4 linked regions of the Homo sapiens genome follow. The protein of the gene in region 3 purifies or fractionates together with the protein of the main gene of each other region. This does not show direct contact. Each region holds a gene or a part of one and is shown on either strand. Other genes may lie near its edges.

Region 1 (3,500 bases), on a different chromosome or scaffold from region 3:
CCTCAGGTGATCCTCCTGCTGCGGCCTCCCAAACTGCTGGGATTATAGGCGTGAACCACCGTGCCTGGCCTCCTCTCTGCTTTTGAAGCTTCCACTCCACTGTCACCTTCCTTGATTTTAGTGATTTGCTTATGTGTTCCCCACCAATCAGGTTGCCCATCTGTTGAGAGCAAAGCCCATGCCTCTGATGCTGATGTTGCCTGAGGCACCTGGTGCCACGCCCCCCGCATGGTAGGACCTGGTGCAGTCTCTGTTGAGCTGAACTTTTTTACATGGAGAGTGAGAACCAAAGTGGCAGTCAGTCGAGTCCCTGAATCCATTTCAGCAAATATTTAATAAGCATCTATCTACTGGGTTTTTCTAATCACACTGGGTCCTGAAGGAAAGTGTAACTTGTTTGCATGTTCTATTTCAGAGGGCAGGAATCATGTGATTTTAGAAAAGGTTTCATGTTAGGCGCTTAACATCCCATCCTTGGGGTATTTGCATTTTTAGGCTTTAAGGGGAATAAACTTCACCTTTGTGGAAACAGTTGTTCCCCAATCTTGTCCACTTTAGGTAAGATGTAGTGAAGAATGCAAGTATTTTGGAGTTTGAGAAATGTTTTTTCTGCTTTTGTCATGAAATATACCCTTGAACACCTTCCCATTTGTGGGGACGTTAAATACTATAGGCAGAAAAATGAAGATACGAGCCCTGGCATGCGAGGACTGCGTGGCAGTGTGGGACGCGTGCTTGAGCCTCACTTTCTTCTCTGGGAGATGGCGGTAGGCGGGGCCGTGGAGAGCAGTAGTGGGACAGAAGGAGCTGAGTGCTGGGAGGGGCGCAGAGGGGAGACTGTTCTGGTCAAGGAATTGAGGTGGAGGCTGAAGGTCTTGTTCTTCAGGCCTTGTCATGTGCAATGGCCTAACTGCCACCAGGGGACCCTCCCTCATTCTGTCCCATTGGCTGCTCACATAATCTTTAATGCACCCTGGTCCTAGCTGTCCTGGGCCTCAGACCACCCCAGGAACTCCCTAGTGGTTGCAGTGTAAAGTACACATTCCTTTTGTTCATTTCCTTGGTCCTTCCACCTTATTTTCTTTTTTTCTTCTTTGACACAGGGTCTTGCTTTGTTGCCCAGGGTGGAGTGTGGTGGTGTGATCATAGCTCACTGCAGCCTCCAACTCCTGGGCTTAAGTGATTCTCCTGCCTCAGCCTCCTGAGGAGCTGGGACTGCAGGTGTGCACCACCACATCTGGCTCCAGTCCTTCCAGGTCTTTAAGCCTGATCGCTGCGTTTCCTCTCGAGTCCTCTCCACTGCACCTTTTCTCAAATCCTGCCAGTGCCCCCTTACCTTCTGTGGAATCAATTCCCTCTTATACTTTTCTTCCAAAAGCAGCCCCAAGGCACGAGTGGTCATAGTGGTGCCCTCAGGTGAAGCGAGGCTATTCCATGCTTGTAAACATGGTGAGCACCCTGCTGAGCGGGCTGGCTTCTTCGGGACTCTTCTCCCTACAGCTGGAGTCCAGGCTCCCCAGTAGGAAGGAAGGCCTGGGCGGTGTGGCTCGCGCCTGCAGGCTCTGTCTAGAAGGCCTGACTCCATCGAGGCCTCAAGTGCCCAGACGCACAAGAGCCAAAGCACCAGGACTGCCGAGGGCTGGGAGAAGGGAGGTGGGAGACGTGGAGTCCACATCTCTGGGCAGTTAAAGTTCAGTAACCGAGCAGCCACCAGCTGTGCCCTGTGGACCCAACAAGAAAGAAGCCCTACCCGCGGCTGTCCTGGCAGAATGGAGCCCTCATGAGAGCCCAGCATGGGAGGCCAGGCCTGGTTCCTGCAGTCGGGTAGGGGGAGGGGGAGGGGCAGAAGTGGCATGTTCCCAGCTTCTTCTGGGATGAGCACATCTGCTCGGCTGCTTCTGTGTCCCACAGCCACTCCGCAGCAACAGAATGATGCTCTGGTTCCTTCTCTCCCCGAGGCTTCCCTTTTCCTGGCTCTGATGATTCTTAACTCTGTCTCTTTAATGTTCCCTGGCCCATGTGTCCACAAGTAACCAGGCCCTTTCCTGTGGCTCTTACCTCCTCCCCCTGCTCTGTCACTGGAGTTGCATTACTGATCTGCCTCTTTGGACTTTAAATATTCTTCCGGTCATGTTGTGTCCCCACCCGGACAGTGTCTCTGGCCTTCAGCTGTCTTCTTGCTTTGCTCAGGACTCAGTGGGGACCCCCTTCCTCTCCTGAGTAGGGTTAGTTTCCGATGCCCAGGGCCTTCTGCAGACCTGTGCCTGCCATCTTGGGCTCTGGGTTTGTGCTCCAGCCAGCCTGGCCTCCTTCCTCCTCCCCTCCTGTGACTACACTCCTTCCTCTCCCCAGCCATCAGAGCCTGGCATGGCTTTCACCTCCTGCCGGAAGTCTTTCTGTATCTTTCCTGTCTCATAATGCTTGTCTGTACAGGCCCAGTCCTCGGTTCACATGTGCATATGTGATTGGAGGGAGGGAGAGAGCGTCGTGTGTGTAAGTGCACCATGTGTGTTGGTGATCTTGGCATGTGGCCTGTTTCCCTGGCTGGGGGAGGAGCCCCTTGCTGGGTCCCTTGTTCCTTGGAGGGTGTGGAGCCCCTCACACTCGCACACCTGATGGGCCGATTCCCCTCGGGCAGGTCCTGGCCCTCCAGCCTGTGCAGCGGAAACCTTTCTGCTACCCCTGTTCTGTCCTCTCGACCCCTGACCTGCACACTTGCCTCCTCAGCCCGTGCCCCGCATCATGGTGCAGTCAGCCAGCCCGGACATCAGGGTGACCAGGATGGAGGAGGTGAGTCTGTTGGGTCACGGGTGGCCACCCCACCTACAGCGAGCAGGTGGCCCTGATGCCGAAACTGTTGAGTCCACACCCACAGTTTTTGATGTTAGCATTCCTGTTTTGGTAATTAGTTATAATATAGGTCACTGCCTTCTCCCTCTCTATTTTCCTTGTTATACTTTTCTATTTTCAACTTGTTAATCATATGATTGCTAAACTTTTAGGTGCTTGACTGCTAATGTAGTCTGCTGCCTTAATAGCCCACAGCTAGGCAGAGGAGATTTCTATAAACAGAACAATCTCCTTCTTCTAAATGTTTGCTTAATTCTCAGTTTTACATTTCATTCTGATTCATGATATCAGCGTGAAAAGACGAATGCTAAGCTGTGGAGAAAATAGTCTCTTATAATCTCCCACAGATCAACAGCACTTCTAATCTTATGAATAGCAAATCTATTTTCTCCCACTGCGCTTTCATTCTCTTAGGAAATGCTGTATCTTCTTAGGAAAATTTTCTTTATTAAAACAACAGCAACAGAGGCACAATCATTAGAAAGAATATTCAGATCTCCGTGAATTTACTTCTATCTGAATGACCTTTTTACCCCAGTGCACACTGGGCATTCACGAATTTGCTGTGGCCGGGATCGGGGTGCCCCCTCCCCTGGGAATGGTGCCGGTCTCTTCTCTGAGGCAGGTTTGAGTGTCCCTGGTCAGCAGGA
Region 2 (3,500 bases), on a different chromosome or scaffold from region 3:
TATTTCTATACATATCTATCTTAATCTCCCCAATTACACTATAAATTCCCTGCGAGCATGATCTATTTCTGATCTATGTTTGTATACCTCACAGTGCCTAGCATAGTGCTTGTATAAAATAGTTATGTAATAAATATTTGTTGAACAAATAAAATAGAAAAAAAAAAAAGACTAGCCTTGGGAAGGGCTATGTTATCCAGATGAAATGATGCTACTTCATAGTAGTAAAGTTAAGTAACATGAAATAAAATTTTTAAAAAATGGAAGATTCAGAACTTATAATACTAATAATTCATCTTAGGTTTCAGTTGTAATTTGTCCTTATTTTAAAAATATTCCCCAGCCTTGATAAATATATACAATTACTATGTTAAATTGTTTTTATTTGTGAAACTGGTTATGACTAGTTTAACATTAAAAATGCTTAAAACTTTGTGTCTGGGGGCGGTGGCTCACACCTGTAATCCCAGCACTTTGGGAGGCCAAGGCGGGTGGATTACGAGGTGAGGAGATGGAGACCATCATGACTAAAACGGTGAAACCCCATCTCTACTAAAAATACAAAAAAATTAGCCGGGTGTGGTGGCGGGTGCCTGTAGTCCCAGCTACTTGGGAGGCTAAGGCAGGAGAATGGCGTGAACCCGGGAGGTGGAGATTGCAGTGAGTCTGGGTGACAGAGTAAGACTCAGTCTCAAAAAAAAAAAGCTTCAAACTTTCTTATTCTATTTCGAAACTATTTGTGTTAACAGTACAGCAGTACTGGCCAGAGGCATGATCATAACTCACTGCAGCCTCAAACTCCCGGCCTCAAGGGATCCTCCTGCCTCAGCTTCTTCTCTAGAGTAGCTGGGATTATAGGCGTGTACCACCACATCCAGTTTCAGTGTGAGGAAACTTTTAATCAAAGTCTTAGTAAAAAAAAAAAAACCTTTTCTGGCTGGGCGTAGTGGCTCATTCCTGTAATCCCTGCACTTTGGGAGGCTAAGGCGGGGAGACTGCCTGAGCTCAGGCGTTTGCAATCAGCCTGGGCAACACAGTGAAACCCCTTCTCTACTAAAATACAAAAAATCAGCCGGGCATGGTGGCATGTGCCTACAGTCCCAGCTACTCGGGAGGCTGAGGCAGGAGAATTGTTTGAACCTGAAAGGCGGAGGTTGCAGTGAGCAGAGATCATGCCACTGCACTCCTGCACTCCAGCCTGGGCAACAGAGCAAGACTGCAACTCAAGGAAAAAAAAAAACAAACAAAAAAAACCTTTTATTTCATAAAACATATTAAAAACACATATTTATCAGTAAGAATTTACTTTAAAAAGAGTGCATTTCTTACCTTAAGTCTAGTTCTTTTGTCCGAAGAAAATTTAAAATGGGTGCAAATGCTGCTGGATCTCTATCAATAAATATCTGTAAAAAAGAGAACAGTTTTATTTTCAAATTACAAATTAATCTTTTAACTTTAATATCTGTAACACTAATAGGGAATGAAGTCTTAATTACTTAAATACTACATTTCCTTGTTTCCACTCTTAAACTTTAATGTTTCTAAAATTGGAATGTAGTCTGTGTGCATTTCATGAGATGGTGTCTTTTTCTTGAGATGGTGTCTTTTTCTTCCTCTGAATAGTTATTATTAAACTGATATTTTAATACATAGAAAAAATCTTGTCTAATAAAATCACTTGTATTGATACCTTTGGTAAAAGTGACACCTGAGGAAACATTTTTATCTGAAACAGTCTAGAATTCAATTAATACTTCGAAAACATGAATAAATAATACTTTCTTATACTGTTCAATCATTAAAACTACAATGTACTTTAATAATGCACACAGGGGTACTTGAGAAAAGTAAATACTGCACACTGCTGTCAAAAGTGGAAAAGAATACTATTCTCATAATACTTTTACTAATCTCAATTTCCTTCAGAGCTGGGGAAAGGTAATGACAATTTTTTTTTTTTAAACTAAAGCACCACAGAATACATAAGAGGAAAACAAATTGCTTAAAAATGTAAAATACATAATTGGTAACTTTTGTTTGTTTGTTTGTTTTGAGACAGCATCCTGCTCTCTCATCTAGGCTGGAGTGCAGTGGCACGATCTGGGCTCACTGCAACCTCCACCTCCTAAGTTCAAGCAATTCTCCTGCCTCAGCCTCCTGAGTAGCTGGGATTAGAGGCACCTGCCACTATGCCGGGTTAATTTTTCTGTTTTTAGTAGAGAGGGGGTTTCACCATGTTGGCCATGCTGGTCTTGAACTTCTGACCTCAGGTAATCCACTTGCCTCGACCTCCTAAAGTGCTGGAATTACAGGCATAAGCCACCCCACCCAGCCCATAATTGATAACTTTTTATGGAAATTTATACCAACACCTATTTTGAATCATTTACAAAAGATCTGGCCATAAAAACGGAACATCTTTTAAAGCTTATGTAAATCAATTAGAAAGGGAAATGGCAGCCAGTAATAAAACTCTTCCTACTATGATCAACTATATATATACAATCAATGAGATTCTTCTAAGCTTTATAAATTTTCTTTTGTTTTCATTAGAGCACATCAAAAATCGAAGAGACATCACAGATTTGTGGAGATCTTATTATTGATAACTTTTTATAATTTCACATGGACATATCTGCATTTGTTGCCTTATTTCATCTGCAAATCTCACCACAGCAAATAAATACCATTGGTCACTTTGTTGCCTCCAAATGGATAAACCAATTTTTTTGCACTGAAACTTTACAATTCTTTCCTTCCCTCACTGTACCAATGCTGTATAAACAAATTCGCAAGGTTATTCTCCAAAATAAAATAAAAAACTGTAGGAGTTTACTAATTTAACCTCTTATATTCTAATATAAAAATATTAGAATATTTACATTTATCCACTTACTGTTAAAGTTTCAATTATTGATCTAAAAAAATTTCTTCTAATGCCAATGTAAGCTCATATCCTACAATCTCTCTAATCATGAATACTTAAATTGCCATATATAGTATTCCCTACTTAGGGATCTTCTCTGATTATAAAAAACTACATATGACAAGAAATAAAATTATGCCACTTTCATTCAGTGATTATTAAAATATCAGTTCTCCTATATTCTTAGAGTAACTATATGTTAGGACCAAGCACTATAAGCATTAATTTAGGAATATGTATCAATTATTATTATACTCACAGCACCAGTTTCATCTCGAAGTGTTGAAATTCTCCCACTCAGCAAACTGGAAGTCATTAATAATCTAAAGTTAGTTTTTAAAATCTGAGTATAAACAAATGTGCTAATTCTTTACCAAATGTTAAAGACCACTAAAAGTAAGTTATCTATCTTCCAAGTTCAAAAATATATAATTTTAAGAGTTAACCTTTTTTATTAAAAAAAATTTAACTGACAAACATTATTATATTTTGGTAAATAAATGTATTAAAATATACACTAAAGAATTATAAGACATACCTGGAAAAAAAAGAATCTGGAATCCACATAAGAGTT
Region 3 (3,500 bases):
CAGTGAGCCGAGATCGCACCATTGCACTCCAGCCTGGGCGACAGAGCGAGACTCCCTCTCAAAAAAAAAAAAGAAAGAAAAGAATACACCTGGCTTAGCTCTTCACTATAGGTTAAGGAAGAGCGAGATGCAGAAGCATGGAGGACAGGACCCAAGGTTAAAAATACAGAAATATGAGGCCAGGCATGGTGGCTCACGCCTATAATCCCAGCACTTTGGGAGGCCGAGACAGGCGGATAGCTTGAGGCCAGGAGTTTGAGACCAGCCTGACGAACATGGAGAAACCCTGTCTCTATTAAAAATACAAAAATTAGCCAGGTGTGATGGCAGGTGCCTGTAATCCCAGCTACTCAGGAGGCTGAGGCAGGAGAATCGCTTGAACCCAGGAGGCAGAGGTTGCAGTGAGCTGAGATTGCACCATTGCACTCCAGCCTGGTTGACATGGAGAAACCCTGTCTCTACTAAAAATACAAAATTAGCCGGGCATGGTGGTGCATGCCTGTAATCCCAGCTACTCGGGAGGCTGAGGCAGGAGAATTGCTTGAACCCAGGAGGTCGAGGTTGTGGTGAGCTGAGATCGCGCCATTGCACTCTAACCTGGGCAACAAGAGCAAAACTCCACCTCAAAAAAAAAAAAAAAAAATACAGAAATACAGAAGTCAAGCCAGGTGCCTTGAACTTGTACTTCCAGCTACTCAGAAGATTGCTTAAGCTCAGGAGTTCGAGACCAGCCTAGGCAAAATAATGATGCACTGCTACTCAAAAAAAAAAAAAAAGAACCCAGCAGATTTATGTTTGTCAAAAATCATCAACCTACACACTTAGGCCAGGCACGGTGGCTCACACCTGTAATCCCAGCACTTTGGGAGGCCGAGGCGGAGGGATCACCTGAGGTCAGGAGTTCAAGACCATCCTGGCCAACATGACGAAACCCTGTCTCTACTAAAAATACAAAAATTAGTCGGGCGTGGTGGTGGGCGCCTGTAATCCCAGCTACTCGGGAGGCTAAAGCAGGAGAATAGCTTGAACCCGGAAGGCAGAGGTTGCAGTGAGCCGAGATCGCGCCACTGCACTCCAGCCTGGGTGACAAGCGAGACTCCGTCTCAAAAAAAAAAAAAAACAAAAAAACCTATACACTTAAAATGTGTGCATTTCATGTAAATTATTTGTAGAGGGATGGGTAGAATGTCTCAATGCCCCATTGGTGGTTTAGTCTCTCTGCTCAGAGGGTCATCAGCCACAAGAAGGTGCTCAGCGATAAGAATGGGCCTGTTTCCCAGCAGCCCAGGCTTCACTGCCCACCTCCCTGCTATCCACATTGTCCAAGTGGCACATCCCACAGTCCCACAGTCACTCCTTTCAAGAAGCCCACATCCCTACCTGTAAGCCATATCCAGGGACTTTGGACAAAACAGGGGAGGAATTTGCCATCTTCTTCTGTGATCTAAGAGATCAAAATACACACACTCATTGAAAAAGAAAATATATATAGGTCCAATTTAAATATCTTATGCTGAACTATGCTTCTTGCCTCCAATGTGACCTTTCCGCCTCCCAGCAGTTACCTGGCAGTACGTTTCTCTATTTGGACTGTCTATGCCGAAAAATGCATCAGCACAATCAAATTTTCCTGTGAAAAACTGTGGGCCTCGCTTCTAAGCCCCAACGCCTGAACACCTTCTCCTCTCACTTCATGCTGCTATTCCAGGGACAAATAGTGACTCAGCAGCGGCGGAGCTGACTGCTTCCACAGGAAGACATGCAAAATGGGCCCACATCAGCCATCAGTCCATTAAAAAAAGCCTATATAAAGCCCACTTCAGTCTTGAAGGAATCCTAAGCTGAGATGAAACAGAGTCACCCCCAGGATGTCTGACCTACCTAAGACCTACTAGGCTAAAGTCAGCATTATTAAGGGTCTCTCTCCAGCAGCATGGCCAAGATACCCACTCACATTTAGCATCTCCAAGGAACTCTAGCATTAGATGGCAAGCTCTGTGGGCACTGGGCCCATGTTCAAGTGTTCATCACTGAATGCCCAGTACCTGGCAGCTTCCAGCACAGGGCAGGTGTTCATGTCTGTGGAATGAATGAGTGAATGAGCAAGTGAATCAACGAGAAGGGAGGCCAGTCGCCACATGCTCACCTCCCTGCACTGTGCTCATCCTCGCTGCTGGAACGATCACTACTCGAGCTTCTGTGCTTATGTTTCTTGTGCTTCTTTTTCTTCTCCTTCTTTTTCTTCTTCTCCTTTTTTTCCAGACTCATTTGCAACTGGAAAATGCCGAGAACACAAGCACACAAGATTACTGAGACCAGCCAGCGCAGTGGCTCATGCCTGTAATCCCAGCACTTTGGGAGGCTGAGTGGAGCAGATCATCACTTGAGGTCCGGAGTTCGAGACCAGCCTGGCCAACATGGCAAAACCCCATCTCTACTAAAAATACAAAAATCAGCTGGGTGTGGTGGTGGGCACCTGTAATACCAGCTACTTGAGAGGTGAGGTACAAGAATCACCTGAACCAGGAGGCAGAGGTTGCAGTGGGCCGAGATTGTGCCACTGCACTTCAGCCTGGGTGACAGAGTGAAACTGTGTCTCAAAAAAAAAAAAAAAAAAAAAGATTACTGGCTGGGCATGGTGGCTCACGCCTGTAATCTCTCAGCACTTTGAGAGGCTGAGGTGGGAGGATCACAAGGTCAGGAGTTCGAGACCACCCTGGCCAATATGGTGAAAGACCATCTCTACTAAAAATACAAAAATTAGCTGGGTGTGGTGGTGTGTACCTGTAGTTCTAGCTACTCGGGAGGCTGAGGCAGAAGAATCACTTGAACCCAGGAGGCAGAGGTTGCAGTGAGCTGAGATCACGCCACTGCACTCCAGCAGCCTGGGCGACAGAGTGAGACTCCATCTCATTAAAAAAAAACAAAAAGCCCAGGCGGGGTGGCTCATACCTGTAATCCCAGCACTTTGGGAGGCCAAGGCGGGTGGATCACAAGGTCAGGAGAAGGAGACCATCCTGGCTAACACGGTGAAACACCATCACTACTAAAAATACAAAAAATTAGCTGGGCATGGTAGCAGGCGCCTGTAGTCCCAGCTACTCAGGAGGCTGAGGCAGGAGAATGGCATGAACCTGGGAGGCGGAGTTTGCAGTGAGCTAAGATCGTGTCACTGCACCACTGCACTCCACCTTGGGCAACAGAGCGAGACTCCGTCTCAAAAAAAAAAAAAAAAAAAAAGATTACTGAGACCCCTATCAGTCTCCTTTGAGGGGCGTGGCTCATGCACAAACTGCCTGACTCCATGCCTCTGGGTCTACAGAAGTCCAGGACATTATAGGGGTTCCCTGTCAACACACCAGGGGAAGGGTCTTAACCCTGGCCGTGCACTAACACCCCCAACTACTGAACTGGTATCTGGTAGGTGAGACTAAGAATTTGTGTTTTTAAACAGTCACCAAAACCACTGCCTAGGAGTTTCCATTCTGTGTCACAGGAAC
Region 4 (3,500 bases), 4.7 Mb from region 3:
GCAGCAGGGAATGGGAAAGAGACTGTAACAAGTGGTGCTACACACCTGTGATGTCAGAAAAAAGGTTAGTTGAGAGAAGTGAAGACCTGACTGCTTGACACTGGAATTATTTTTTTTTAGGTAGGGTCTTGCTCTGTCATCCAAGTGGGAGTGCAGTGGTGCAATCCTGACTCACTGCAGCCCCGACCTTCTGGGCTCAAGCGAGAAGAGGTCACTCTATGTTGCCAGGCTGGTCTCGAACTCCTGGGCTAAAGCAATCCACCCATCTCACCCTCCCAAAGTAATGGAATTACAGGTATGGCCACCATGCGCAGCACTCTCCCCTTTTTAAATAACTGCTATATCGAGATGTAATTCACAAACCATGTTACACTTTTTTTATTTTATTTTATTTTTTTGAGACAGGGTCTTGCTCTGTTTCCCAGGCTGGAGTGCAGTGACGCAATCACGGCTCACTGCAGCCTCAAATTCCTGGGTTCAAGGAATCCTCTCTCCTTGGCCTCCCAAAGTGCTGGGATTACAGGTATGAGCCACCAAGCCAGGTCTCCGTGTTACTCTTTTTAAGTGTTTAACTCAGTGTTTTACTGTATATTCATTAAGTTGTGCAACTATCCCCACTATTTAGAGTATTTTCATCATATCAGAAAGAAACCCTGTACCCATTAGCAGTTACTCCCCATTCCTCCCTTTTCCTTTCCCTTGGCAACCATTAGTCTACTTTCTATGTCTACGGGTTCTATTCTGGATACTTCATACAATATGTGGTCTGTTGTGCCTGGTTTCTCTCAGATTAATTTTTTTCTTTTTCTGAGACAGGGTCTGGCTCAGACGCCCAGCAGGCTGGAGTGCAGTGGCGAGATCTCAGCTCAGCAACCTCCACCTCCTGGGCTCAAGCAATCCTCCCACGTTAGCCTCCTGAGTAGCTGGGAATACAGGTGCACGTGATTACACACGGCTAAACTTTTTTTTTTTTTTTTTAGATGGAGTTTCGCAATTGTTGTCCAGGCTGGAGTGCAATGGCGTGATCTCGGCTCACTGCAACCTCCGCCTCCCAGGTTCAAGTGATTCTCTTGCCTCAGCCTCCCTAGCAGCTGGGATTACAGGTGCGTGCCACCACATCTGTTAATTTTTCTGTTTTTAGCACAGATGGGGTTTCACTATGTTGGCTAGGCTGGTCTCAAACTCCTGACCTCAGGTGATCCACCCGCCTCAGCCTCCCAAACTGCTGGGATTACAGGCATGAGCCACCATGCCTGGACTAATTTTTGTATTTTTTTAGAGACAGGGTTTCACCACATTGCCCAGCTTGGTTTCAAATTCCCCAACTCAAGTGATCTGTCTGCCTCAGCCTCCCAAAGTGCTGGGATTACAGGTGTGAGCCACCTTGCCCAGACCTAGCTTATATTTTCAAGATTCACCTTGGAATTGTGGCTTGAGGAGCAAAAAAAAATGAGCAGAATTTTAGTGGCTCTCTAGCATATGCAAACATTTTACAAATTTGATGCCAAAAGCTGGCTACGAAAAAATACTTATGCCTACTAACCAAATAAGTGAGCTTAGGCAGAGGCCAAAGGAGGGTCATGGAGAACATTTCACTAAAGGGTAAAAGGGAATGAATGGGTTTATTCTGAGGAAATGGAAGATGATATTGTTAAACAATGAACGAATATGTCCAACCTTCTACTGTAAATCTAATATTTTGGTTTTTATTTTTGTCGTTTTTAAAAATTTAATTTTAAAATAGAGACAAGGGCTAGGCACGGTGGCTCACCAGTAATCCCAGCACTTTGGGAGGCCAAGGTGGGCAAGATCATTTGAGGTCAGAAGTTCGAGACCAGCCTGACCAACATGGTGAAACGCTGTCTCTACCAAAAATGCAAAATAATTACTCGTGCGTGGTGGCGGTCACCTGTAGTCCCAGCTACTTGAGGCTGAGGCAGGAGAATCGCTTGAACCCAGGAGGCAGAGGTTGCAGTGAGCCAAGACTGCACCACTGCACTCCAGCTGGGGCAACATAGTGAGACTCCATCTCAAAAACTAAACTAAACTAAACTAAAATAACAAAACAAAACAAAATAAAATAAAATACAGATAAGGTCTTACTATGTTGCCCAGACTGGTCTTGAACTCCTGGCCTCAAGCAATTCTCCTGCCTCGGCCTCCCAAAGTGTTGGGATTACAGGCGTGAGCCATCATGCCGAACCTAATCTAATATTTGAATCTCTATTACATGCAGCCAAACTGATATCTAAATTAACACAATTCCCAAACTTCTGTCTCCAGCCCAGACCTCTCTTCTGAGCTCTTATACTCAATTCTACACTGGATACCTCAACCTAAGATGTCCTCTAGTTGCCTCGGACACAAGTCCAAAACGGAATTTGACCATCTTTCCCCACAAACCCATTTCTCCTCCAGTGTTCCCATCATTCATCCTAGTGCTCATACCAGAAACCTGGAAGTCATCTTTGACCATTCCTGTTGCCCCACATTCAACAAATTACTTTTCTCAAGTACATCCCTCCTCTTTGCTACCTCCATGTTCAAGCCACCATTCTCTCTCTTCATAAAAGCTTTCTAAATCATCACATGTGCCCCATCCAACTCATTCTGCAGGGCACCCTCAATCATCCTTTGGAAATGCAACTCTGGTCATGCCATGTGCCAGCTGCAAACTTTCAACATCTGGCTGGGCACGGTGGCTCACACTTGTAATCCCGGCACTTTGGGAGGCTGAGATGGGGGGGGGATCACCTGAGGTCGCGAGTTCGAGACCAGCCTGACCAACATGGAGGAACCTCGTCTCTACTAAAAATACAAAAAATTAGCTAGGCGTGGTGGTGCATGCCTGTAATCCCAGCTACCTGGGAGTCTGAGGCAGGAGAATCACTTGAACCAGGGAGGTGGAGGTTGCAGTGAGTCAAGATCATGGTGTTGCACTCCAGCCTAGGCAACAAGAGCAAAACTCTGTCTCAGAAACAAAAACAACAACAACAAAAGAACTTTTCAACATCTCCCAGTGCTATTAGAATTGAGCCCAGCTTCCTAATGCCACCTACAAAGCCCTGGCCTGATGTTCTTATCTCATCCCCTACCACTGCCCACTGCTCTCTCTATTCCATCCACACAAGCCTTCTTTCAGTTCCTTCTTTCCCACCCCACAAACCCAACACGGGCTACTCCTCAGGCTGGAACATACTCCCCAACCTCCATCCCATCTCCACTTGACAGACTGAGTCCAATTTATCCTTTGGGTCTCGATTTCCCCAGGGAAGTGACCCACCACAGTCAATTACACTGCCTGTACTTCTTCACATGGCACTGATCATAATTTAATTATTTGGTGATTATTTAATTAATATCCATATCCCCGACTAAGTTGTAGCGCATAAAAGCAGGGATCATATCTGTTTAATTCAAATCGTATCCCCAGTTGCCAAACACAAATTAAATTAATAAGTATTTGTTATGACTATATCTAGTAGCTAATATTTACTGCA

Evidence for each region.
Region 1: the proteins of CWC25 (region 3) and KIF13B purify together in Homo sapiens (affinity purification with mass spectrometry, with the first as the bait; one large-scale study listed by BioGRID). This does not show direct contact.
Region 2: the proteins of CWC25 (region 3) and KCTD3 purify together in Homo sapiens (affinity purification with mass spectrometry, with the first as the bait; one large-scale study listed by BioGRID). This does not show direct contact.
Region 4: the proteins of CWC25 (region 3) and DHX8 purify together in Homo sapiens (co-immunoprecipitation; one large-scale study listed by IntAct). This does not show direct contact.

Annotation. Positions count from the first base shown.
Region 1 is NC_000008.11:29,074,571-29,078,070, reverse strand, and holds part of KIF13B (kinesin-like protein KIF13B), read left to right. Parts: intron 1-2,727; coding exon 2,728-2,790; intron 2,791-3,500. UniProt on the Homo sapiens protein: Involved in reorganization of the cortical cytoskeleton. Regulates axon formation by promoting the formation of extra axons. May be functionally important for the intracellular trafficking of MAGUKs and associated protein complexes.
Region 2 is NC_000001.11:215,573,804-215,577,303, reverse strand, and holds part of KCTD3 (BTB/POZ domain-containing protein KCTD3), read right to left. Parts: coding exon 3,465-3,500; intron 3,238-3,464; exon of another isoform or gene 3,232-3,237; coding exon 3,186-3,231; intron 1,404-3,185; coding exon 1,330-1,403; intron 1-1,329. UniProt on the Homo sapiens protein: Accessory subunit of potassium/sodium hyperpolarization-activated cyclic nucleotide-gated channel 3 (HCN3) up-regulating its cell-surface expression and current density without affecting its voltage dependence and kinetics.
Region 3 is NC_000017.11:38,808,322-38,811,821, forward strand, and holds part of CWC25 (pre-mRNA-splicing factor CWC25 homolog), read right to left. Parts: intron 2,275-3,500; coding exon 2,147-2,274; exon of another isoform or gene 1,955-2,146; intron 1,445-1,954; coding exon 1,381-1,444; intron 1-1,380. UniProt on the Homo sapiens protein: Involved in pre-mRNA splicing as component of the spliceosome.
Region 4 is NC_000017.11:43,500,975-43,504,474, reverse strand, and holds part of DHX8 (ATP-dependent RNA helicase DHX8), read right to left. Parts: intron 1-3,500.